Linked DNA regions of Homo sapiens: region 1 is linked to region 2. The links come from fine-mapping of genetic effects on gene expression. A gene starts in region 2. The other region holds a variant in brackets. All regions are shown on one strand. Distances are between the middles of the regions. Region 1 overlaps SMARCA4 (SWI/SNF related BAF chromatin remodeling complex subunit ATPase 4). Region 2 holds the start of SMARCA4 (SWI/SNF related BAF chromatin remodeling complex subunit ATPase 4).

Evidence for each region.
Region 1: its variant is fine-mapped to the expression of SMARCA4 in whole blood (INTERVAL, PIP above 0.99).

What each region holds. Positions count from the first base shown.
Region 1 is chr19:11,013,993-11,030,655 of GRCh38, reverse strand. SMARCA4 (SWI/SNF related BAF chromatin remodeling complex subunit ATPase 4) reads right to left here. Exons shown (of 35, transcript NM_003072.5): 17 at 11,633-11,699; 18 at 10,955-11,065; 19 at 8,689-8,931; 20 at 7,025-7,138; 21 at 6,218-6,325; 22 at 5,148-5,234; 23 at 4,310-4,356; 24 at 2,706-2,872. Among named protein-coding and RNA genes, the nearest start is that of SMARCA4, 61 kb to the right of the region's middle. RefSeq lists an enhancer at 2,012-2,512. The variant C/T (reference allele first, on the strand shown) is at 9,252.
Region 2 is chr19:10,955,662-10,964,461 of GRCh38, reverse strand. It overlaps SMARCA4 (SWI/SNF related BAF chromatin remodeling complex subunit ATPase 4), which reads right to left and starts at 3,432. Exons shown (of 35, transcript NM_003072.5): 1 at 3,288-3,432. RefSeq lists an enhancer at 418-547 and silencers at 3,065-3,124, 3,175-3,234, 3,285-3,704.

The DNA.
Region 1 (16,663 bases), 62 kb before region 2:
TTCTGAGAGCAGGAGCAGGATCAGCACCTGCCAGCATCCCCAGATCCCTGGCTCCGCACTCTCCACACGGGCCTGTGGGCCACTGGCGAATAACTGGATTTCCAGTGTTTCACCACAAAACGTCTCTCCACACATCCCAGAAATGAAAACAGGCCCCGCTGGGAGAACTAGAGGAGGTGGGCCTGGAGCACAGAGTCCAGCACCCAGCCCACAGCTAGGCCACAGCGTCCAGCGTCAGCACAGCCACCACCACCACAGCCCTGGATTCTCTCCTCTACTCTACCCTGTGCCATTCCATGGGGAGCGGAAGACACAGCGGCCAATGCCGGCAACACCGCCGCTCGCAACACAAGGGACCTGGGGGTGGGTGGACAGTGACTGTGGGTGCACCTGCCTTCAGCCCTGTCTCAAAAAGTTTTGTGGTTCACAAAGAGAATCTTCTACGGTAAAAGCATGGAGACCTTATAAAGGGGGCTCGTGTCCTTTCTGGCAGGATCAGTGTCCCCATGCCCCAGAAAACCCAAGTCAAGGAGCCAGAGCAGGTCTCCTGGGTGACAACCCACGATGCCCTCAGCGTTGTGGGCATTAAGGCAATGTCAACACTCCCTGCGCTGCTGGGAGTTCGGACAGAGGTGCCCCTGAACACTGAAGTCATTTTGGTGATGAAATAAAAACTGGCAGGCCGGGCGCGGTGACTCATGCCTGTAATCCCAACACTTTGGGAGGCTGAGGTGGGTGGATCGCCTGAGGACAGGAGTTCGAGACCAGCCTGGCCAACATGGTGAAACCCCGTCTCTACTAAAAATACAAGAAAATTAGCTGGGCGTAGTGGCGGGCGCCTGTAATCCCAGATACCAGGGAGGATGAGGCAGGAGAATCGCTTGAATCCAGGCGGCGGAGGTTGCAGTGAGCTGAGATCATGCCACTGCACTCCAGCCTGGGCAACAAGAGTGAAACTCCGTCTCAAAAAAAAGAAGAAATAAAAACTGGCCATTTCCTGCCACCAGCCTACACATGCCCAGGCACGGTGCAGAAGCCCACAGTAGCCTGGCCATCCACCTGCCGTCCCACCCTCTCTCAGGCACCAGATGTGCCCCTGCTACTCCAGCTCGGAGGAGGGGCTGAGGTGAGGGGCCACCCGGCTCCCAGATGCCAGCCCACCCATGGGAGATGCAGTCTCAGGAGACTTCACTGAGCTCCTACCCTTCCTCTACTCGCAATGGATTCTCTGGCCCTGTGGCCATGACCACATCACATGCAGAGGACACATCTGTAGTTCAACTGACCAAAGTCCTTGTCCTTATGGAGTAGGCAGAAGGGCACTGGGATGGGTGGGAACCAGGCTCTCTCCTGGGGGAGTCAGGGACACGACACAGACGGGATGGCCCTCAGGAAGCCTTGGCCCTCTCGAGGACGGGAGAAGCCGCTGGAGAGACCGTAGGAGAGGAAAGGGTGGGGGGTGGCCCGGCCATGAGGACCCTGAAGGATTTTGGTTTTCAGCCTCAAAGCTGAAAGTGGGAAGCCCCCAAGGAAGAAGGCAAGCCGGGGAGACCCCTGCAACAGACTCGTGTCTGTAGAGTGGTCCTGGACAGAACCCCGGGGAGGACCTGCAGTTTGGAGGGACACACAGGGCACACTCCGGGTGGCACCTGGGCAGGTTGGCCCAGCAAACACAGGTCCAAGTGATCAACGGGACAAGGGGTATGGAGGTCTGGGGTGTCCTGCTGTGAGACAGACCTTGCACAGGAGCTTCAACAAAGGCTCTGGGAGGTCGTGTAGGGAACAACAAACTGGCTGAGCCGTGTCTGTCTCAGCAGCTCATGCTCGTGTTTCTCGTAAGCCCAGTTCTAGTAACTCCCACGAAGAACTCACTCCAGGGCTCCCTGACCCACTGGGACTGACAGACATGTCTCACGTGCCCTGTCGGCATCTCACAGCCTCTCCTCCCTGAGCTCCCGTGTGCTGGGGCAGGCAGGCGCAGAAACACAGGCGGTGACCTTTCCCATCAGGGACCGCAGGGCAGGGGGTTGGGCTGAGAGCCTCTCTACGGCAGCTGCTGCTCCTGCCTGGCAGTGCTTGCTTCCCTCCCTCCGTGCTCACCACAGAGTCTGATTCCAGGTCCAGGCCTGACCTGTGGCAAGGTGGCAGTCACTGGGCTGCTACGAATGGCCCAGGGATGGGCATGCGGCTCACAGCAGCTAAATGAGAGCCAGCCTGGGACCTGCCTTTGTTGGGGACACTGAGCAGGTGGAAAGGAAGCCAAGATGGAAGAAGGCAGAGCAAAGAGCTGGAGAAAAGTCTCTCCAATATCACCTGCATGCCTGGATCCAGCTGTGCCTGAAGGATGTTTAACCTCCTGGGGTTAGAGCTATGTAAGCCTATTGGTGCTTTCTTTCCTGTGTCCACATGGTATGGAATTCTGTCACTTCCAGCTAAAAGTGCACAGGGCACCCCTTCCCCAGTGCGCCCAGCATTGTCGTGGAAAGACTGTCAGCCTAGGAGTCAGGACACCCGGCGTCCAATCCACGGCCTGTCCCAGTGCCGAGTGCCCAAGATGCTCAGCCTGTGGCTAGGCCCACTCTGGCCACTGGACCCAGAGCGCCTGGGCCTCACCCTGCCTCACAGGAGGGAATGCCAGTGAGGAGCTTCTGTGGCAGCCACAACAACAAAACCCTGTAAGAAACGCCTCACTGGCTCATACTCACCATCAAGCCTGAGGTATTTAAAGCCGCGATACGCAAAGTAATCTTCCATGATGGTCATGAGGGAGGTCATTTGGCAGAACAGCAGCACTTTGTGGTTGGTTGCTCGGAGTTTGGGAAGAATTCTATCAAGAAGCTCAAATTTACCCGAGGCTCGGTACAGGTCCAGCCTGGAGTGTGGAGGAGGCAGGAGAGAAGGCGCAGGATGTTAAACCTGGAACCCTGCAGGCAGGTAAGGCAGGAGGTGCATCGCCCGCCTCCAGGCCAGGCGCCGGGTTCAAGGGCACAGACATGCATCCTAAGCAGACGTCACCCACCCAAAGCTTCAGCAAAGCCATTTCCCCCAACTGAAATAAGCCCGGCCACCCTCGCTGGGGAGGCGTATCACCAGGGTGGCACATGTATTTCTCGTCAAACCCAGACACTCATGAAAATGAGAGGAGCTGTGAGTCACATGGCCGGCACAACACGGGGCTGGAACAGGGATGCTCCGGGAAGCCAGACCTTGTCCCCTTGCCCGATAAAGAAGCCCCAGGAGCAAATGCCACACTGGAGACACCCATGCTCTGCTAGACCCAGAAGGAAGGGCCACCTCGGCTTCTCATGTTCTCTCCAGCCAAACCCCAAGTGTTGTAGATGTGGACACTGAGGCTGGCAGGGGGACGACGTGATATGGCTGACCACATGTCCAAGCCAGGCCTCCCAGCCTTGAAGCCAGGTGTACAGGACCCTGTTCCACAACTCAGTATAAAAAAACACATCAAAAAGAATTTGTGATGTTTTCATTAGGCGCCTCTCTTCTTGCAAATGGCTTACTACCCCAGGGGAATTGAATGGAGGCTTTAGCTGGAAGAATGCTTTTAGCAAGGTTCTTTGCAATGGTGAAAATCTAGACACAGCATCCACATCCATTAGGGGCTTAAAGGAGTCTGGGCTGCCCCTTACAAAGGGTGCTATAGAAAACACCCACATGATGTAAAGAGTGCCTCTGTACTAGTGAGCAGAGTTTAGGCTCAGAGAGGTTAAGAAAGCTGTCTAGAGTCACAGAGCTTGGAGGCGGCAGAGTGGGATCTGTAAGCCAGGTCTGCCTCAGGAATCCTGTCTCTTGGGGTTAATAGTGGTCAGCTCTCCAAGCACTAAAGATTTGTATAATGGGGCCGGGCGCGGTGGCTCACACCTGTAATTCCAGCACTTTGGGAGGCCAAGGCGGGTGGATCACTTGAGGTCAGGAGTTCAAGATCAGCCTGGTCAACATGGTGAAACCCCATCTCTACTAAAAATACAAAAAATTAGCTGGGTGGTGGCAGGTGCCGGTAATCCCAGCTACTCGGGAGGCTGAGGCAGGAGAATCATTTGAACCCAGGAGGCAGAGGTTGCAGTGAGCCGAGATTGTGTCACTGCACTCCAGCCTGGGCAACAAGAGCAAAACTCCACCTCAAAAAAAAAAAAAAAAAAAGATTTGTATTATTTGCTTTGGATTCTTCTGTATTTTCTAATTTTCTGCCTTTGAAATTGGACAACATAACAGCAGCAATAAAGCCAACAAAACGACAGAAAACCTCTGGGTGGACCACCTGCCCACCCCATCCAGTTGGGAAGCTTCTCACCCTTGGACAATGCCGCCAGTGAACCCCAAGTGCTCGGAAAAGGACTCCTGCAAGGCAAGGAGAGAGGGGTCAGTGACAGGCAGGAGCAGGCCACCGGGCCCCGCTGCGGTCCGCACACACCGCTCGTGCTCAGAGGACAAAGCCCCCACACTGTGTGCTCGGCACGGGCCCACGGCGGCTCTGAGACCAGACACAGATGCCAAAACCATCTTTCTTAGTCCACTGACATCCTTTCCCTCACACTCCTCCAACGAAGGAAAGGACATCCCATACAGCACTCTTCACACCCTGAATGCACGAGGACGTCATGGGGCCACAGCCACGCTCAGGGTGCTGAGACAGCCCCAGGGGCTCTCGGGGCAGCAGGCGGTCTCCAACGACCCTGACACTTTACACCAAGAAACACGAACATATGCATGCTTCTAAGAACCCAGATTCTCAAAGCCACCATGACCAAAAAGGGTTCTGACTCCCCCACACTTCACTGAAGACGGTGGTGACTCTTGACGCCCCGCAACGTGAGAAAAGCCAGTGAGCCAAAGAGACGCAGCAGGACCCCACTGTGGGGGGACACATCCCCAGAGAAGTCTCCAAACGCTCCTGCTCTCTGAGGGCAAGCTTTCAGGGCCCTATATTCCTATCGCACGTTGCGCCCTAACTGCTGGGATTCTTCCCGTAAGCACTGGTGAAGCGAAGACCAAATGAGAGACAGATGTACAGGCATTACCTAATGAAAATATTCGAGTCTGTTTTTAAAGAGCTGTCGAGGAGAAGCCAGCTCTGCCTAGGAGCTCAGCAGACAGCAGGGCCTGAGCCGTCCCAGCCGCGGCGGGCTCACCTCGATGTGCTGGAACATGTAGGGGTGGTTGCAGATCTTCCGCAGCTGCATGATGGTGTTCATCAGGGTCTTGGTGCCGCCTTTGCCCTGGAAGGCAGATGAGAGGGACCCAAATGGGGTCTTGCCCTCCTGGGGTGGGGTGGGCTTGGTGGATGGGTGGGTGTTGGGAGAAGGGCCATGGGGACGCTCTAGTGGGGAAGAGTGGCTTTTGGCACAGCAATTGGGAGTGAGGAGATGGCAGGCTGGAGGCCCGGAGGCCCCCAACAAGCCCTGGGAAACAAATGACTGCCTGGCACAGCAGAGGGCAGATGGCAGGGACAGGGCCAGCAGGACGGGACGGAAACAAGACTGGCAAAGGGCTGAGGCAGAGTCCCCGATGCTTTGTGATGCCAGCTTTGTTCTGGGCACTGTTACTGTGGGGGTCCCTAGAGGGTCTCAGCTGGGCAAGAGGGCCTCAGCCGGGTGAGCCATGACTCAGGGCTCCCTGGGCTCCAGGATGAGGAAGGAGGTGGGGGCGGGGCGGGGGGTGCATGCTCTGGGCTGGGAATGGACTAGGGAACACACTGCTGCTCAGCTCAGGGGAGAAGGGGCACAGACACAACGTCTCGGGGAAGCCAGGCCGAGGTCAAGGCCTTGGGGGCAGAATCAAGGGGTCTGGTGCATTTCCTGGGAGGATAATTTCACTGCTGGTGAGGAGAGCCAGGCAGGTGGGGCCTGGGGCCTGGGATTCTCAGAGCAGCCCCTGCAGGAGACAGCCCGCTCCCTTCCTTTCACTTAATAACAGAGAAGGGGGGCATTCTAGAACACTCTAACCCTGCTGGGGTTAGTGCTGGGCCCAGGCTGCCAATTGCAGAAGGAGCCAGTGTTTCATAGGCAAAGGAGAAGCCACTGGCAGCTGAGTCAGTGTGTCCTGACACAAGCCACCAGCCATCATAACCAGGGCTGGCCAGATGCCCTGGGGATCATGACCAGATCATGACCCGATGGTCAGAGCACGCTCTGCTCTGCCTGCCACGCTGCCGGCCTTGGACACCCAGTGGGGAATGCAGTTGGGGGACTCTGGGGCCCACCTTCTTGTCCTTCTCGGAGCCATCAGTCAGCAGCACGCCCTTGGCCTGCATGTGGCGGTAGAGCACTCGCTGCAGCGCAGACATGTCGCACTTGATGACGTACTCCACCTGCAGGGGACACATAATGCTCACGAGGGCCCAAGGTGGCTTGAGGCCTGACTCCCCCCATCCGAACCCAGCTCTGACCCCCTCGGCCCTGTCATATGAGCTCTGACCAGAGCACACTGGGGTGTGGGTGAGGAGACCCTCACAGCTGGGGAGAAGAGGGGAGACCTGGGCAATGAGAGGAAGCACCAGGCAGAGATACCAGAGGGTTACTGGGCCAGAAAGGGCCCCCCAGCCATCTTCTGGGGGCCTCTCTACAGCCAGCCAGGAAACAAAGAGCCAAGAGGGACAACTGCAGCCGGGGACCCCGAGTCCATGGGTCTTGCTGTGGGAACTGGGCCCAGGGGTGTGGCTGCAGCAGGCCTTGAAAACCCAGAGCCATGATGGGGGGCCGGGGGGCAACCCCAAGCCCACGGCCCCTCCTGATGTGGCCAGGAGAGCCCGCACAGGCACCTGGCCCCCTGACAGGAAGTGGGATTTTGTGCTCTAACCTATTGTGAGCTATGTGAGCCTATGAGTGCTTTTCAATCCCTACAACAGCAGCACAGGGCTTTACAGACCCAGTGGCGTCATCGCCACCCCCAAGCTGGATTGACCAGGGCAGGCCTGGGACTGTGGGGAGAGGCCCTGAGCACGCCCAGCCCTGGAGAAAGCCCCCACGTGAGGCTGCTTCACTGGTGGCTCCCCTCAAAACTCCATCACCTTTTCGGGCAACTGGGCCTCGACTTCCTTCTTGAGTCGTCGGAGCAAGAAGGGCCGCAGCACTTTGTGGAGACGCCGGATGATGAGAATGGTTTCCTCCTCATTCAGGTCCACCTGGAAGCCCCCAAGACAGGAGAAGCAAGCGTTACCTCCAAAGGAGGGCGACAGAGGTCTCACTAGAAGGTGCGGATGTGGGGACAGGGTGGACGGGGTCCCCTGGGGTGATCTTGCCCTTGGCACGTGGCTTTTCAGCCTGCTTTATGCTTTCTGGGAGCCAGGCAGGGCACCCTCTTCCTTAGGAAACTGTGAGGATCTGGTTCCCTCCATGTAATTCCTGGGACATGGAACCGCAGTACCCAGAGCACTCTGCTCCCTGTGCCTCACCAGAAAGACCCCCGGCAGCGGGCATGCTGCTTCTCCACGAGTAACACAAACTGGAGTGTCCACAGACCCACCCCACGCCAAGCTCATGCCAGGAGCGCTGCAGGGGCCAGGCTGACCACATGGGGCTTATAGCGGGTGATTCTCAGGGAGGGCTCTGCCACCGGGAGCCCCAAGGGACTCTCATTCAGCCTGGGTGGAACCAGGTGAAAGAAACCCTGACCTCCCACGGCGCCTACTCCTCTACTAATAATTAACTTTTAAAATGTTTTAATTAAAAAAGTTAAAGGAAAATGAGACGACGCCAAAACTTTTCTTCTATTGCTTCCCTGGCAATCCTTTGGCAGAGCTTTTGCTCGGCTCAGAAAGTGACAAAACTATAGCATCAGATCCTGGCCCTTAGTGTGGGGGTCCCGGGAGTCTAAAAATTGGGGACTCCTTTATCACGAGGCTTTGGGGAATGCCTCGGTTTCGCCATCAGAAGAGTCTCTGCCTTGACCAGCAGCCGAGAGGGCAGGGAACTCACGCATGAGGCCAGGAAGGCCCCAGCTGCCCTGGACCTGTCTAAGGTGGGAAGAAGGGGGTGGGCCCAGCCGTGCTGGGCAGGGCACTTCGAGGTAACCTCTGTAGTTCTGCCCACACTTCAGCATCTGGTTACTTAAACCCCTCAGCAGGAAACACAGTCTGTCCCACAGTTTCAACCTCCAACAGCAAGGAGCTCTAGGCTCAGGGATCAGTGCTGGTGTGGGACCACTCATCAATGATGATGCTGCCATGCCACAGTCTGGCTGATGGTGCCACCCAGACATTGAGACACACTGGCCACTGAGCTTTTTGAAAACAACGTAAGACAGAACCTGACCATGTGGCCCCGCTAACTGGAATCTTCCAAGTTTCCTTCCCACTGCCCTGAGGGTGAGTTCTGAGGGCACCTAAAGGGGCCTACAGCACGCTACAGCCTCTAGCTGTGCTCTCCACACGCTTGCGGTCCCACAGCTGCCTCAGGGCCATCTTCCTCACCATCCACTCTGCACCTGGAGCATAGGGTCAGAGACGCCCCGAGCATTCCGAGATTCACCACCATGACCTCTGCCCTGCTCCCCTGGGGCCCTTGTGGCTGCCCCAGCCTTGGGTTCCAGGGCTCCCCTGCTCCATGCAGATGCAGACTCTCACCAGGCACCCAGCACAGGCCCAGCCAGCTGTAGCTGGTGCTCAACACGTTCCAACCAGCAAAGCCAGCCGCACCTGGAACCGTCAGCATGGGCACAGCTGGGCAAACCCACCTTTTCCCCGGTCATGGCAAAGGGTGCGTTAAACCACTGCTCGAAGGTGCTGCAGCTCTTGAAGATGGTGGGCAGCAGGAAGTTGAGCAGCGCCCAGAGCTCGGGAAGCTTGTTCTGCAGCGGTGTGCCCGTCAGCAGCAGGCGGCGGGGTGCCACATAGTGCGTGTTGAGCACCTGCGTCAGCTTGCAGTGGTGGTTCTTCATGCGGTGACCTTCGTCCACAATCATGTACTTCCAACGGATCTGCGGGCCCCAGAGTGGGCAATCAGGGCAGGGGGCAGCAGGTGGCCCGGCACATGGGGAGAATCTCCCACTCTGCGCCCAGCAGCCAGGAAGGCTCCAGGTGGAAGAGCGCAGCTGGGTGGAGAGCACAGGCCTGACGTCCTGCCCCGGGGCTGACTCACCGAGTTGGAGCCACACAACGTAGCCTCTTGCAAGCCTTGGGCAGAGACAGGCCCGTGACCCCATGACTATTGGCAGGTGAACAATGCAAATTGCAAAAAAGCAATCTGGCTTCCCTGCAAAATCACACATATGAATCTACAGCACAGAAAAATGCCGAG[C/T]ACGTTCTGGCAGAAGACACATCTTGCTGACTGGGGGACTTGTCCTGCTGGTGTGGAGGGTCTCAGGGGAACTGGGTTGGTGACGGTACATTTCTAATGAGCAGCCTGTGGTTCAGAATGTGGGCCCCATGGGGTAGGGGCCAGCGCCACTACATACAGGGCCATGCGGGTCGGGAGGGGGCGCAGTGGCCGCACTCAAAGAGCACTCCCACTGCAGGGTGATTACATCAACTGAGCCACTGGCAGGGGAGCACGGGGTTTCAGAGCCTGGTTCCTGTGCCTGCCAACGGCCTGGCTTTGTAAGGAGTCAGCAGGGGTGAGCCACAAAGGAGGCACCTGAAGCATGGACCTGAGGTAAGAGCCTGCACGTGGGATACCCAGCTCCCTGGGCCTCAGTTTCCTCCCTTGTTGGCTCCGGGATAAAGCACCCAGTCCTCGGAAGGCTGAGGCAGGAGAATCACTTGAACCCAGGAGGCAGAGGTTGTTGCAGTGAGCTGAGATCGCTCCACTGCACTCCAGCCTGGGTGACAGCTGTGAGACTCTGTCTCAATAAAAAAAAAAAAGAAGAGAAAAAGAAAAGAAAACACCCAGTTCACAGCCCCAGTATTCCAGTACTGTCACTCCAGCCATGCACTGAGAGGCGGAGCCACCCATAAACAGCTCCTCCATCCCCCCATACCTGGGTCAAGAACTCTACTGTTAGGCCAGACACAGTTGCCCAGTGCTTTGTGAGGCCAAGGCGAGAGGATTCCTTGAGGCCAGGAGTTTGAGACCAGCCTGGGCAGTACAGCAAGACCCCATCTCCATAAAAAATAAATTTAAAAAAGTTAGCTGGGAGTGGTGGCGCACACCTGTAGTCCCAGCTACTCAGGAGGGTGAGGTGGGAGGATCGCTTGAGGCCAGGAGGTCAGGCCTGCAGTGAGCTGTGATCACATCACTGCACTCCAGCATGGGCAACAGAGCGAGACTCGGTCTCAAAAAAAAAAAAACCAAAACGCAAAAAACTCTCTACTGTTCAACACTCACTCAGCTGGATGTTTAGGGGTGAGACCAGGTACATCTTTACCCCTCCTCAAATGAGGAACATGAGTTTTTGGAGGCAGAGGGCTATGTCTGTTTTCTATCTGGGCCGTATTCTCAGTCATGGCCACGCTGGGACTCCCTTCACAGTTTCGTCCCAGAAGAGGCTTCCAGGACAGTAGGACCCTCACAGAACAGCCCGAACCAGCTGCCCAAGGCCAGCAGGCAGTCATGGTATTTGGCCCTCGAGCTCTCCCCCACATGCTGAATCTCAGCCCATGGCCTGTGGTGAGAAGCCAGGGCCCCAGGGAGGGACGGCCAAGGCAATGAGACAGGAGGACAAGACTGGTCTGGCCAAGGCCCCATGGGGACTCTGTAGGCGGGTCAGGAGACGCCTTGGTGCTGAGGCTCTCTGGGCAGAAGGCCCGAGAGGAGGCAGAGCGCATGCTGTGTAGATGGCCCCAGCTTCTGGGCCTGACTCAGGGCCTGCCTGGAGACAGTTAGGGAGGTAAACCTGAGGTCGCCCCCACCTAGGCCTTTCCCCTACACAGGGCAGCTGTCTTCACGCACATGCAGGTGGGACTCCGGGAAGAAACTTGTAGGGGCTTTGGAGGAGACGGGCAGCGTGACCCACGTGTGAGCACTCGGCCCATGGCCTGGCATTTCCCACAGGGACACGTTACCTTGGCGAGGATGTGCTTGTCTTTGATGATGTACTCGTACGTCGTCAGCAAGACGTTGAACTTCCCACTCCGGAGCTGGGGGACAAAGGCCCGTCTTGCTGCTGGGGATCCCTGCAAGGGAAGCAGGATGCACAGCTCGGCTTTTGGAGCCGGGTGGCCAGGTGGCAAGAGGGGCACAGGCACCCCCTGCAACTGCCCAGTGACACGGCGGGAGGGCTCGTCCTCACAGGGGTAGTGGGGAAAGGGGCTGGCAGGGCCGCTGGCGCGTCCCCAGACCTCACCACGCAGAACACGCGCTGCAGGGGGAAGAGGAAGCAGTGCAGGCCAGCGGCGGCCGGGGCCTGAGGGAACCACGCAGCCTGCACCGCCATCTGCACATTCCTGGTGGCTGACAGGCTCCCCTCTTCCTGGGTCCCCATCTCAGGCGCCTGAGCTGGCCTCTGAGTGCTGGCCACCATGCTCACTCCTGTCTCCTCCCCAGTGAGCTAATCTGCCCTGTCCCTGCCCAGTCCAAACTCCCGGATCCATGTGACTGGAGTTCCAGGCTGTCCTGGAGACTCCATGCGACTGGAGACCCAGCATTCTCAGGTTCACTGTCCAGAGGTATGTGTGGACGTCCTGCCCACCACCGCCTGCACCTCCGTAGCAAGAGAGGAAACCTCAGTGGCTGTGACCTACCTTGTAAGACACCTTCACCACGGAGGGGGCCCACTTGTCAAACTCGTACGCCCAGTTGGACAGCGTTCTGATGGAACAAGGAAATGAGAGTCAAGTGCCGGTCTCTCATCAATGGCTCACTGTGCAAACCCATAGCCACTGGCTGTCAGGGGCGAGGCCAACATGGCCACAGCCCTCCGAGTGGGCAGAGAAACTGTGTTTAGGGCAGCTGAGGGAGGGAGGGAGGAAGAGAGACTGGCGAGGACGTGAAGGGCTCTGCCTCAGAGGACAGAAGGGAGGCCACTGGGAAAAGAGGGCAAGGCCCTTTAGAGTGAGAAGTAGGGACACAGAGATGTGATGGGGGACAGAAACAATGCTGCCAGGGCTGGGGAAGCCTGGACCTGCTGCCGGGAAAATGCAGCTTCAGAGCACAGGCTTCACGCCCAGAGCCAGGCTAGCAACAGTGCTGTGGAGACCTGAGGATATAGGAGACACCAAACAGTCTTTCTGCCACCCTCCAGCCACGGAAGGTTCCTGACTGTGAGAGAGAACGAGGACAGTGAGGGGCGAGGCGGGGCCTGGCTCAGGTGGCAGGCGGGAGGACAGGGATGGGAGGGAGCGGCAACTCGTGGCTGTTCCCCTGTGGGATGACCAGGGCTGGAATGAGGGAGGACATGGGGGCAGGCAGAATGCAGTGGGGAGGGGTGAGTCACCTGAGACCGACAGCCTAGAGACTGAGGAGAGGGTGGAGGCGGTAATAAAGCTGAGTCCCAAAGGGGACGGGCTCTGGGAGGAACTCTGGGGCAGGGAGTTTTCAGTGGGGGAGGGAAGCCACTCAGAAAGTCTAGACGGGGTGGTCCGTAAAGACAGGGCTCGAAGCTGGAGTCCCAGGGACTACTCGTGGTTTGCCCCCAAGCAGCTCCACGAGGGAGGTGCTGTGTCCACCATGAACCCATCTCCAGCCCCGCTGGAAGCCACAGCCAACCAGGCGGCACAGCCAATAGACAGAAGGACGCATGGCTGTGGTGAAGGCTGGGGAGAGTTCCTGAAGAAGCGTGGGGAGCAGAGGCTCAGCAGCCTTGCGCTTCTGCTGCCTTTTGCCCTGCCCACTCTCCTAGAACTCTTTCCTGCCCACTCTCCTGCATGAGGCGAGGGAGGCAGTGCAGCCGTCCTGCAACCATGAGGTAAGGAGCCTGAGGGTTGGAGTCACCCAAGAATGACTGGGCAGAAACCTGGGGGAGGCTGGGTCCCTGATGGCATCTTGGAGCCACCGGACCTGGCCCGTAGGGCCTGACCCTGTGCTTCCGCTGACTCAGGAACAGTGAAACCTCCCTGGAGTGATGGGGACAGTCAGCGCACCAAGGGAGAAGCCGGAGGTGTGCGGAGCATCTGCACTGGGAGGGAGAAGAGCCAGGAGCAAGGGTCAGGAGGGGACTGAGGGGACAGGTCCCAGAGACAGAGGTCCAAACGGAGGCAGGACAAGCAGCTCATGGCAGGAGGCAGCAATTCCCAGTGAGAGGGCCGGCACAGCCGGATGCCCATACGCCGTAAACATTTCCTAGCGCGCGGGCCCTCTTCTGGCCTGCAGGAGCTGGCGTTCCACAGCATGGACGCTTGCCCAGGTGGGGCGCAGTGGGAAAGACTGCAGGAGCACCCACCTCACAACCTCACTGAAGTAGGGGAAGAAGGTGACCTCTATCACCCTGGAAATGGAATCTGACTGCAATCTGGAGGTCTGAACACACAAGGAACTGGCCCCAAGGCCTGCGCTCTAGTGGCTCAAGATGCTTCCCGGAGGTACCGGCTCACTACTCTGAAACTGTTGTCCACGGAAGCTGAGAATGGGCGCACACACAGGGTGGAAGTGTGAGAAGGAACCTGTGGTCCTCACTCAGAGCCGCAGACAGTGGTATGAACTCACGTTCAGCTTAACACAGAAACAGATGCCGAGGCAGAGAAGGCCTTTTAGACGATACGTGCACAAAGCATCAGCACGCGCACATGAATCTCCTAGCACTGACCACTGAGAGGGCCCCAGGAGCAATGACACCCCAGAAGCAACAGGCCCATCCAGGACCCAGGTCTTGGTTCCCAAAACCATTCTGTAAGAAGGGAAACCAGGGCTCCTTGGAGAAATGGCTGATTTGAGGGAGTGGGCGGGAAATAGACTACATGAGCCTGCAGCATCTCTTGGTGCCAAAAAGCAAGAAAGTCCTCAAAATTCACCCGATGCTGGGGGCGTGTCAAAGGACAGAAGAGCCAACTGAAAGCACTCCCAGTGGCCAAAGCTGGATGGATTTGAGCCACAAAACAAAAAAAACCCAGCCACTGGTGCGTAGCCTGGAGTACTAAATAAATATCCGTGGGTCCATACTCATATTAACAAATGACTGAATACATAGAGAAGACACAATTCTTCCAGGGAGAATTCTCCCAGGCCAAATCTGAAAAAAACTGAAGCAACAAAATAAATAATATTTGTTCACGCCCACACTGATATAATAATTACCCAAACAAGCACATGGGGGAGACGGGAAAGCTCTTCCTAACGGTGGAATTCCAATTAATTTGTAGAGAAGAGCGGACAGAAACAGGTAACCATGTATTTGGCAACTCTCATGTAATTATTTTTTCAGGCAAGACTTATCTGACGTTTGCTGCTATAGTTTGGGTATCTGGCACCTCCAAACCTCATGCTGAAGTCTGATTTCCAATGTTGGAGGTGGGGCCTGGTGGGAGGCATCTGTGTCATGGGGGCCTCCCTCGTGAACGGCCTCGTGAACCCTCGTGAACGGCCTGTACTGTACTGGGGATGGGGGATGAATGAGTTCCTGCTCTCTGAACTCTCGTGGGAGCTATGGTTAAAAGGAGCCCGGCACCCCCGCCTCCCTCGCCTCCTCCCTCCCCATGGGATCTCTACACACTGGCTCCCCTTTGCCTTCCACCAGGAGTGGAATCCGCCTGAAGCCCTCACCAGGTGCCCAGTCTTCCAGCCAGCAGAATCATGAGCCAAATAAACCTCTTTTTTTTTTTGAGAAGGCGTTTCATTCTTGTTGCCCAGGCTGGAATGCAATGGCACGATATTGGCTCACTGCAACCCCCGTCTCCCAGGTTCAAGTGATTCTCCTGTCTCAGCCTCCTGAGTGGCTGGGATTACAGGCATGCGCCACCATGCCTGGCTAATTTTTTTTTGTATTTTTGGTAGGGACAGGGTTTCACCATGTTGGTCAGGCTGGTCTCAAACTCCTGACCTCAGGTGATCCGCCTGCCTCGGCCTCCCAAAGTGCTGGGATTACAGGAGTGAGCCACCGCGCCCAGCTAAACCTCTTTTCTTTATCACCTAGTCTCAGGTATTCCTTTATGGCAACATGAAATGGAGTAGAAGAGATGCTGAAATTATTGAGGAAAGTAGGAAGAGAAATGAGATATTCACAAGTGTCGAAGTACGTTCCCACGAGACAGTTATTAACGGAAAGTGTAACTCCTAGGTTTACAGTGGGAAACCCAGCAGGCACCTTGCCCGAGACACCAAGGCCTCAACATCTCATGCCTTCCCCGCTAAGGCACATCAAGCAGGGCGTGGTGTTGCTCCACGCGATCACATCGGACAAACCCAAATTGAAGGAGAGTCTACCAAAGGTCCGATCAGGATTCAACAGCGTCAAGCTCGACCAGGACAAAGACGAAATGAGGAACTGCCACAGGCATGCCACACAGACGTGACAGTGTGGGATCCTGGACCAGAGCAAGGCCACTTGTGAGAAAACTGACAAGATTGGTAAATAAGGCCTCTGGTTTGCTATTAGTCCTACGTCCATGTTATCTTCCTGGTTTTCATAATTGTCTTGGGGTTATGAAAGAATGGGGAAGATGGGTGAAGGGTGCATAGCAATTCTTTACACTAACTCTACAATGTTTTCTAAGAATGAGGTCGCCAGGCACAGTGGCTCACTCCTGTAATCCCAGCACTTTGGGAGGCCAAGGCGGGCAGATCATGGGGTCAGGAGTTCAAGACCAGCCTAGCCAACATGGAGAAACCCTGTCTCTACTAAAAATGCAAAAAAGTTAGCCGGACATGGTGGCGCGTGCCTCTAATCCCAGCTACTCGGGAGGCTGAGGCAGGAGAATCGCTTGAACCCAGGAGGCAGAGGTTGCAGTGAACCAAGATGGCACCACTGCACTCCAGGCTGGTCAACAGTGCGAGACTCCTCAAAAAATAAAAAAAAATAAAAATAAATGAGATCATTTCAAAATGAAAAGTTTAAAAAAATTTTTTAAAGCAAAAAATTAACAACTAAGAACCAAGGCTGCAAAACAACAGCACCCTGGAGAGCGGCGTTCCAGCAGAGATGGTGATCTGAGAAGTCTGTAAGTGAAAGGAGGGAAAATCGGGAACTGCAGAGGGCGACTGCCACTGCACCCATCAGCCTCCAGGGGAAGAAGGGCAGAGGGGAGCCAGGAGGTGGGCAGAGCCGGAAGGAACAGCCTCCAGACACAGACAGGGGACAGAGCTCAGGCAGGTGCAGCAGGAACGCTGTAGCAATCTGGGTCTGACCACGAGGGGAGGTGCAGCTACCTGCAGCGCTGTGCACAAGGACGCCCTGCTCCTTCAGAGCAGTCTGTTCTACCCGCCACGTAGGAAGCAGGGAGATAGAAGAAAGAAACAGTTCCACAGTAAACCTGGGAGGGTTCTGGGGTCCTCACCTTTCCTCCAGTCCTCCCTGCAACAGTCAGGACGTCAGGCCTACCCTATGGGTGTGTGACCCATGGGGCCTGGCTGTCTTATAGGCAGAAGGGCATTTTCCCATGGGGTTGGAGCATGGGCATGCCGCTCCCCAGCCTGCCAGGAGTTGGGGGTCCGCTGCTGACTCGTGGCTGTAGTGGTCCCAATGAGTGCCTGGTTGGAGTTAGGGGCTGTGCTCTAGGGCCAGACCAAATGCTATGCTGAAGTTTGCCCAATCAGACCAGACTAACCCCCAGGCCGGTGACTGTCTGCTTGCTGGACATGTGACTTGAACTGGACCAGTAAGAGCCGGCCCTGGGGCTTTCTGG
Region 2 (8,800 bases):
GTGCACACCTGTGATCCCAGCTACTCAGGAGGCTGAGTCAGAAGAATCGCTTGAACCCGGGAGGCAGAGGTTGCAGTGAGACGAGATCGTGCCATTGCACTCCAGCCTGGGCAACAAGAGTAAGATTCCGTCTCAAAAAAAAAAGAAAGAAAGAAAGAAAGTTCCACCAGACATCTGCCCAAAACCCTAGTCCCTCCCATGCTCCCACCTCCCACAAACAGCCAAAACATGGAATGGTCTAAGGTTATCTCCTGGTGTTTTGAGGGTTCCCAAGGAGAAGCAAAGGTACACAAATAAATTGTAAATAAATACACATATGTTGGAATGCTCCTCACTGACAAGAAGTTTAGAGACCACTGCACTGCCCTATATCACAATTCTGATGACATCACCTCCCCTGCTCAAAAGCCTGCACGATCAACATTTACGTCTCCTAAAGGGCTGGACACAAAATGATTTTAGGTGGCCCATGCAAAACCATTTATTACTTTCCTAACTATGCATGAATTAATTTTTATTCCTTTTTTTAGACAGGGTCTCGCTTCGTCACCCAGGCTGGAGTGCAGTGGCTCAATCATGGTCCACTGCAGCCTGTACCTCCTGCCCCAGCCTCTCAAGGAGCTTGGGACTACAGGGGCATTGCACTCCAGCCCGGATGACAGAGCGAGACTCCGTCTCAAAAAAAAAAAAAAAATCAAGTGTTCACTACGCATCAGGTGCAGCAGTGTGTTAGCGGCTTCCCATGTGACCTCATTCAACCCTCACAAGAAGCCTGTGAAGTTTCGGGCATCCTCGTCCTACCTGTTTCACAAGTGGGGGGCCCTACTGCTAAGCGCCTCGCTTGAGGTTAAGCTACGATTTAGAGAGCTGGGTGTGAATTCAGGAGGTCTGATTCCAGAATGAGTACTCCTTACCACCACCCCACGCTAACCACCACCCCACACTTTGTAGGGGAGATGAGGACAACTGAGGTTCAGGAAACAATGGCTTGGAAAGTGCAAAAACTGTTCAAACAACTAACCTGTATCCCTTACAATCCACCCCCAGTCCTGCACCAAGCTTTCTTTTTCTTTTTTTTTTTTTTTTTTTTTGAGACAGTCTTACTCTGGTGCACAGGCTGGAATGCAGGGGCACAAGAATGGCTCACTGCAGCCTCCACCTCTCTGGCTCAAGCAGTCCTCCTACCTCAGCCTCCTGAGTAGTTGGGACCACCGGTGCATGCCACCACACTCGGCTAATTTTTGTATTTTTTGTAGAGATGAGGTCTCACTATGTTGCCCAGGTTAGTCTCAAACTCCCGGGTTCAAGCAATTTTCCCGCCTCAGCCTCCCCAAGTGCTGGGATTTCAGGTATGAGCCACTGCACCTGGCCCTGCACCAAGCCTTTTACACAGATGGTCACGCGATCTTCCACAGGACCCCCTCATTCAATCCACATAAGTTCGCTAAAGACCTACTATGTGTCAGGCCCAGGGTACTGTGGGGCCAGCCAGGCAGACACAACCCCAGCTCTCACGGTGCTGGGGGTGACAGCTACACCGGAAAGGACCAAGTTGATGTATGAATGTAGCTGAGGGGAACAATGGCTAGTCCGAGGTGGCCAGGGAAAGTCAAAATACAATCCTGGCGCAGTGGCTCACACATGTAGTCCTAGCACTTTGGGAGGCCGAGGTGGGTGGATCACCTTAAGTCAGGAGTTTGAGACCAGCCTGGCCAACATGGTAAAACCCCATATCTACTAAAAATACAAAAATTAGCCAGGCGTGGTGGCGGGCGCCTGTAGTCCCAGCTACTCAGGAGGCTGAGGCAGGAGAATCGCTTGAACCCAGGAGGCGGAGGTTACAGTGAGCGGAGATTGGGACTCTGAACTCCAGCCTGGGCGACAGGCAAGACTCTGCCTCAAAAACAAAATACAATCCTACACACCCTCCCTGATTTTGAGGCCCCCTCTTCCAAGCAGCCCCCGTGATCTCTGGCTACCACCGATCCCCTGCCTGTCCGCTGTGTCCCTCTCACAGTGCAGGTTCAGAGCAATAAACGATAGGCCAAGAGAGTTTGTTCCCACATTTACCACCCGCTCCCCTCCAAGACTGCAGAGGCTCCAGGATCCAACCCCCGACCATCCAACACTTAGTAGGGCCTCAAGAAGTTATCTGCTGAACAATGAGGGAGATTGGACCAGACAATTACAATAGTGCTTCCCGCTTGCGAGGAACCATTTTACAGGCTTTCACCAATTCCATTTGGGAGATTACCCCCTTTCACAAAGGAGCTTTCACAAAGGAGGAAAACTAAGAGGTTCAGAGAGGTTAAGCCACTTCCCTAAAGTGACAGTGTGCTAAGTGACTGACAGCACCAGGAATCAAGCTTGAATGCAGCCTATCAATCCAAACTGAAAACTTGCTTCAAATTCCTGCGAAGCGGCTTTTCCGCTTATTCCCTTGCTACTTTCCCCAAGGAGTCACTGACCAAAAAAAAAAAAAAAAAAAATCAAGACTGGTATCTTCAAGATCGGGACAAAACACTCGCCCAAAAGGTCCACGTTGAAAATAAAAGCCTTAATCTGAAAAACCAATTGGGAAGGAGAAAAAAGGATGCAAAAGAAAAGCAATGCTTTTACACAGCAAAGGATTTCCTCCGTGCTCCCCTACTTGCCGCCGACCCCATCCCCAACCCCAATTCGGGCAAACATTTTGAAGTCACTAACTGCAAGGCATCGGGGGAGTCCTTTACCTTTCCTTGAAAATCTGGAATGACACGTTTTTAAGACAATTTGAGGTCGGCTAGCCCAAGGGGACCGCTAATGCCCGTGTCCGGCCGACGCCGGACATATCTGGAGGTTTGGCTGAGCCCCGATCGCAGCTTCGCCAAAAACGCAACATTCGGGTCGGACCCGTTACCACGCAGCCAGAAAAGCCCCAACGCCTGCCTATTGTTGCAGCCGCTGTAATTGGGAGGGCGACTGTAGGGGTGCCGGGCGAGGGGGGCGAGCTTTGTCCGGCGACCCCGGCGAGAGCGCGCGCGGAGAGGATCGCGCGGCCTCCACGCGGCCCGGGCCCCCCACCCACCCCGCCGCTCCGCGGGGGCCGCCGCTGCCACGGCCTCGCGACACTGTGGCCTTCCCCACGCGCGCGGCTGCCGGCTGGGCTTCTTGACCCTCGGGCGCCGCCGTACCCCGGCCCCGCACAGGGCGCGCCGGCAGCCCCCTCCCCCCTCGGCGCCCCGGCTCCATTCAAACCGCCCTCCCCGGCCCCGCGCCGCGCTGCCCCCGCGGCCCGCGTTCCTTACCAGGAGCCGCCGGCGCCGTCGACTTCCCGGCGCCTCCCCCGCCCCTCCGCGCGGGGCCGGGGGCAGAATGGGCGTCTCGCTTCTCTTCACGAAACAAAGAAGCCGCCGCCGCCGCCAAACGAGGGGAAGCCTCGCGCGCGCGCCCGCCCGCCTCGGCCACCGCCCCCCCTTCACACACACGCGCGCCACCCGCGCCCCCGCTGCGCGCGCGCTCGCCGGCTCCCCTCCCCCTCAGCACCGCGGCGGCCTCTCCAGCTTCCGCCGCCTGCCCGGCCTCGTGCGCGCGCCAGCCCGCCCTTCCGCTCCCGGCGCGCGTGCGCGCCCGTCCCTGGGCGGACGGGGGTGGGCGTGGCCCGGAGGAAGCACGCGCGTCCGATGCACCGCCCCACTCGGGCCGCGATGGCCCCGCGCCTGCGCACGCTTCGCCTTCTGCACGCCTCGCGTCTTGACGCCCCGGAGCATGCGCAGAGCGGACGCCACTGCGGCGGCGGTGGCGGCGGCCGCGGTGACGATGGGGCAACTGGAGAATGGGATCCCGGTGGCCGTGGGGTCCGTGGGGAAAGGAGGTCCCTGAGGCTCGGAAATAGGAACCCTGGACCGTAGGACGGGCCGCCTGGACCAAGACCGGGCAGTGGTTTCCCGCGGGCCAAGGGCGCGCCTGGGAACCGCTTTGATCCCTGACCTGGGGCGGCGAGGCCTATTTGGGGAGGCAAGGCGGGGCCCGACCGTGGCCGCCTTCTCTGCAAAACTTCCCAAGTGCCATTAATTAGCTTAGCAAATATTTATTGATCTGCTACTGTGTCCCAGCCGCCGTGGAGCCCTCGGTCTAGTGGGGAAGGAGGACAAGAAGCAAGATTAATAAGCAAAATAGTGCAGTATGAGAGGCCGGACTTGGTGGCTCACGCCTGTAATCCAGCACTTTGGGAGGCCGAGGCGGCCGGATCACCTGAGGTCGGGAGTTAGAAACGAGCCTGACCACCATGGTGAAACCCGTCTCTATTAAAAATACAAAAATTAGCCGGGCGCGGTAGCTCATGCCTGTAATCCCAGCACTTAGGGAGGCCTAGGCTGGTGGATCATGAGGTCAGGAGATGAGACTATCCTGGCTAACACGGTGAAACCCCGTCTTTACTAAAAATACAAAAAATTAGCCGGGCGTGGTGGCACACGCCTGTAGTCACAGCTACTCGGGAGGCTGAGGCAGGAGAATCGCTTGAGCCCAGGAGGTGGAGATTGTAGTGAGCCGAGATCGTACTATTGCACTCCAGCCTGGGCAACAAGAGTGAAATTCCGTCTCAAAAAAAATAAATAGTACAGTGTGAGGTGAACACTGGGAGGATCATGGACATTTTAAATAGGGCAGCCACGGAAGTCGTCGTTGCAAAGAACACGTTTGAATGCATACAGGCTGGTGGTGAAAGAGAGAAACCTTCCTCCGAGAGTGAAGGCCCTGAGCCTCTTGGCCTCTTCTGTGTGTTTTCTTTTTTGTGTGTTTGTTTGTTTGTTTGTTTGTTTGTTTGTTTGTTTTGAGACGGAGTCTTACTCCATTGCCCAGGCTGGAGTGAGGTGGCACGATCTCAGCTCACTGCAACTTCTGCCTCCCAGATTCAAGCGATTCTCCTGCCTCAGCCTCCCGAGTAACTGGGACTACAGGCGTCCGCCACCACGCCCGGCTAATTTTTGTATTTTTAGTTGAGACAGAGTTTCACCATGTTGGCCAGGCTGGTTTTTAACTCCTGACCTCAAGTGATCCGCCCACCTCAGCCTCCCAAAGTGTTGGGATTACAGGCGTGAGCCACCTCACCTGGGTGGGTTTTTGTTTAATTGTTTGTTTTATTAGAGACAGGGTCTTGCTCTGTAACCCAGGCTGGAGTGCAATGGTGTAACCACAGCTCAGTGCAGCCTCAAACTCCTGGACTCAAGGGATCCACCTCAGCCTCCCAAATAGCTGTGACTACAGGTACATGCCACCACCACCAGCTTTTTTTTTTTTTTTTTTTTTTTGTCTGTTATGTTCTGTAGAGCTGAGGTCTGCTGTGTTACCCAAGCTGGTCTCAAACTACTGGGCTCAAGCAGTCCTCCTGGCTCAGCCTCCCAGTGCACTGGGATTACAGGCATGAGCCACCAAGCCAGGCCCCAGAAGGACCTGGGTTTAAAACACGACTCCATTTCTACTACCTGGGTGATGCATGGGTAATACCAGGCAGGTTTACCAGAGCATCTACACCTCACTTTCTTCACCTGTGAAACAAACAATAAGGCTGGGTGCGGTGGCTGACATCTGTAATCCCAGCACTTTCGGAAGCCAAGGTGGGCAGATGACCTGAGGTAAGGAGTTCGAGACCAGCCTGGCCAACATGGTGAAACCCCGTTTCTACTAAAAATACAAAAAAATTAATTAGCCAGGCATAGTGGCAGGTGCCTGTAATCACAGCTACTCGGCAGGCTGAGGCAGGAGAATTTCTTGAACCCAGGAGGTGGAGGTTACAGTGAGCCAAGATCATGTCATTGCGCTCCAGCCTGGGTGACGAGAGTAAAACTCCATCTCAAAAAAAAAAAAAAAAAAAAAAAATGCTGGGCCCAGTGGCTCACGTCTGTAATCCCAACACTTTGGGAGGCCAAGGCAGGTGGATCATGAGGTCAAGAGATTGAGACCATCCTGGCCAATGTGGTGAAACACCATCTCTACTAAAAATACAAAAATTAGCTGGCTGTGGTGGCGCGTGCCTGTAGTGCCAGCTACTCAGGAGGCTGAGGCAGAATTGCATGAACCCAGGAGGCGGAGGTTGCAGTGAGTCGAGCGTGCCACTATACTCCAGCCTGGTGACAGAGGGAGATTCCGTCTCAAAAACAAAACAAGACAAAACAAAAAAAACCCACCAGAAACAATAATGGCTCCCACTTCCACTGTTTGGTTATGAGGAATCATGACAGCAGGTAGCCCACCTGCTAGCTCTCTGATCCTCAGCTAGTGTTATTGAATAGTGCACAGTAAGTGAGCAAGTAGAAGTGGGATCTGAACTCGATTCCTCATTCATTCAAGTAGTTATTTTTTTGTTTTTTTGTTTTTGTTTTTGAGACACAGGCTTGCTGGGTCATCCAGCCTGGACTGCGGTGGCACGATCAGTACTCACTGTAGCCTCGACCTCCTGGGCTCAAGCGATCCTCCTGCCTCAGCCTCCCGAGTAGCTTGGACTACAAGGGTGGGACACCACACTCAGCTAATTTTCTTAAAATTTTTTGTAGAGACAGTCACACTATGTCGTCCAGGCTGGTTTCAAACTCCTGGGCTCAGGTGATCCTCCCACCTCAGCCTCCCAAAGTGCTGGGATTACAGGCGTGAGCCAAGGCGCCCGGCCAAATAGTATTTCTTATGCTCTCTCCAAATGCTAAGCATTGAGCTAGGAATACCCTGCAGCAATGCATGGAGGAGGCAGGGTTGCTGCCCATGGAGTGGATGGTATGACTGTTCTCTAATTGTCTTTTATGCTAATCACACTAATATGCAATAGTGTAAAGAAAAACAGGCCGGGCCAGGCGCGGTGCCTCACGCCTGTAATCCCAGCACTTGGGAGGCCGAGGCAGGCGGATCACCTGAGGTCAGGAGTTCAGGACTAGCCTGACCGACGTGGAGAAACCCTGTCTCTACTAAAAAAATACAAAATTAGCCGGGTGTGGTGGTGCATGCCTGTAATCCCAGCTACTTGGGAGGCTGAGGCAAGAGAATCGCTTGAACCCAGCGGGCAGAGGTTGCGGTGAGCTGAGATCATGCCGTTGCACTCCAGCCTGGGCAACAAGAGCGAAACTCCGTCTCAAAAAAGAAAAACAGGCCGGTTGTGGTAGCTCATGCATGCCTATAATGGCAGTACTTTGGGAGGCCCAGGCTGGCAGATCACTTGAGGACAGGCGTTCAAGACCAGCTTGGGTAACATTGTGAAACCCCATCTCTACAAAGCAATACAAAATTTGCCAGGTGTCTCAATTAAGAGCACAGTTCTTAATAATGAACTGCCCCTGGGACCTTGGCCCCATGTCTGCATTGACACCCTTGGCTTCCAGACTTTAAAAAAAAAACATCTACAGGCTGGGCGCAGTGGCTCACGCCTGTAATTCCAGCACTTTAGGAGGCCGAGGCAGGCAAATCACAAGGTCAGGAGCTCGAGACCAGGTCAATATGGTGAAACCCTGTCTCAACCAGGCACGGTGGCTCACGCCTGTAATCCCAGCACTTTCTCTGGGATCGCAAGGTCAATATGGAGTTCGAGACCTGGTCAATATGGTGAAACCCCGTCTCAGCTGGGCGCAGTGGCTCACACCTGTAATCCCAGCACTTTGGGAGGCCGAGGCGGGCAGATCACGAGGTCAGGAGATCGAGACCATCCTGGCTAACACAGTGAAACCCCGTCTCTACTAAAAATACAAAAAAATTAGCCAGGCGTAGTGGCAGGCGCCTGTAGTCCCAGCTACTCAGGAGGCTGAGGCAGGAGAATGGCGTGAACCCGGGAGGCACAGCTTGCAGTGAGCTGAGATCCCGCCACTGCACTCCAGCCTGGGCGACAGAGCGAGAGTCTGTCTCTAAAAAAAAAAAAAAAAGAGAGACCCCGTCTCTATTAAAATACAAAAATTAGCCAGGTGTGGTGTCAAGCACCTGTAGTCCCAGCTACTCGGGAGGCTGAGGTAGGAGAATCGCTTGAACCCAGGAGGCGAAGGTTGCAGTGAGCCAAGATCACACCACTGCACTCTAGCCTGGGCGACAGAGACTCCATCTCAAAAAAAAAAAAAAAAGAAGGGGAGGAGAGGGCAGGGCAGGGGAGGGGAGGGGAGAGGAGGGAACGGGAAGTGGGGGAGGGGAATCATCCCAGAGGAGAATGGATTTTTTTTTTTTTTTTTTTGGCGCAATTTCCGCTAACTGCAAGCTCCGCCTCCCAGGTTCACGCCATTCTCCTGCCTCAGCCTCCTGAGTAGCTGGGACTACAGGTGCCCGCCACCACGCCAGGCTAATTTTTTGTATTTTTAGTAGAGACGGGGTTTCACCGTGTTAGCCAGGATGGTCTCGATCTCCTGACCTCGTTATCTGCCCACCTTGGCCTCCCAAAGTGCTGGGATTACAGACATGAGCCACTGCGCCCGGCCTTCTTCTTTTTTTTTTTTTTTTTTGTTTTTTGAGACGGAGTCTTGCCCTGTCACCCAGGCTGGAGTGCAGTGGCTCAATCTTGGCTCACTGCAACCTCCACCTCCCACCTCCCAGGTTCAAGAGATTCTCCTACCTCAGCCTCCTGAGTGGCTGGGATTACAGGTGGATTCTTCTCTTTTACTCAAAGATGAGGGCTTGAAATAACAACTCACCCAAGTCCAGAACATGAAAATGTAAAATACATTGACTTCAGTTGCCACTGCAAGTTAAACACCTTTTCAGTAATATCTCCAGATCTTCCTTGGAATATGAAATCACTCATTAGTTAACAAAATGTGCATTTATTCATCAAAAATGACCTCTTGTGCCTGGGCACAGT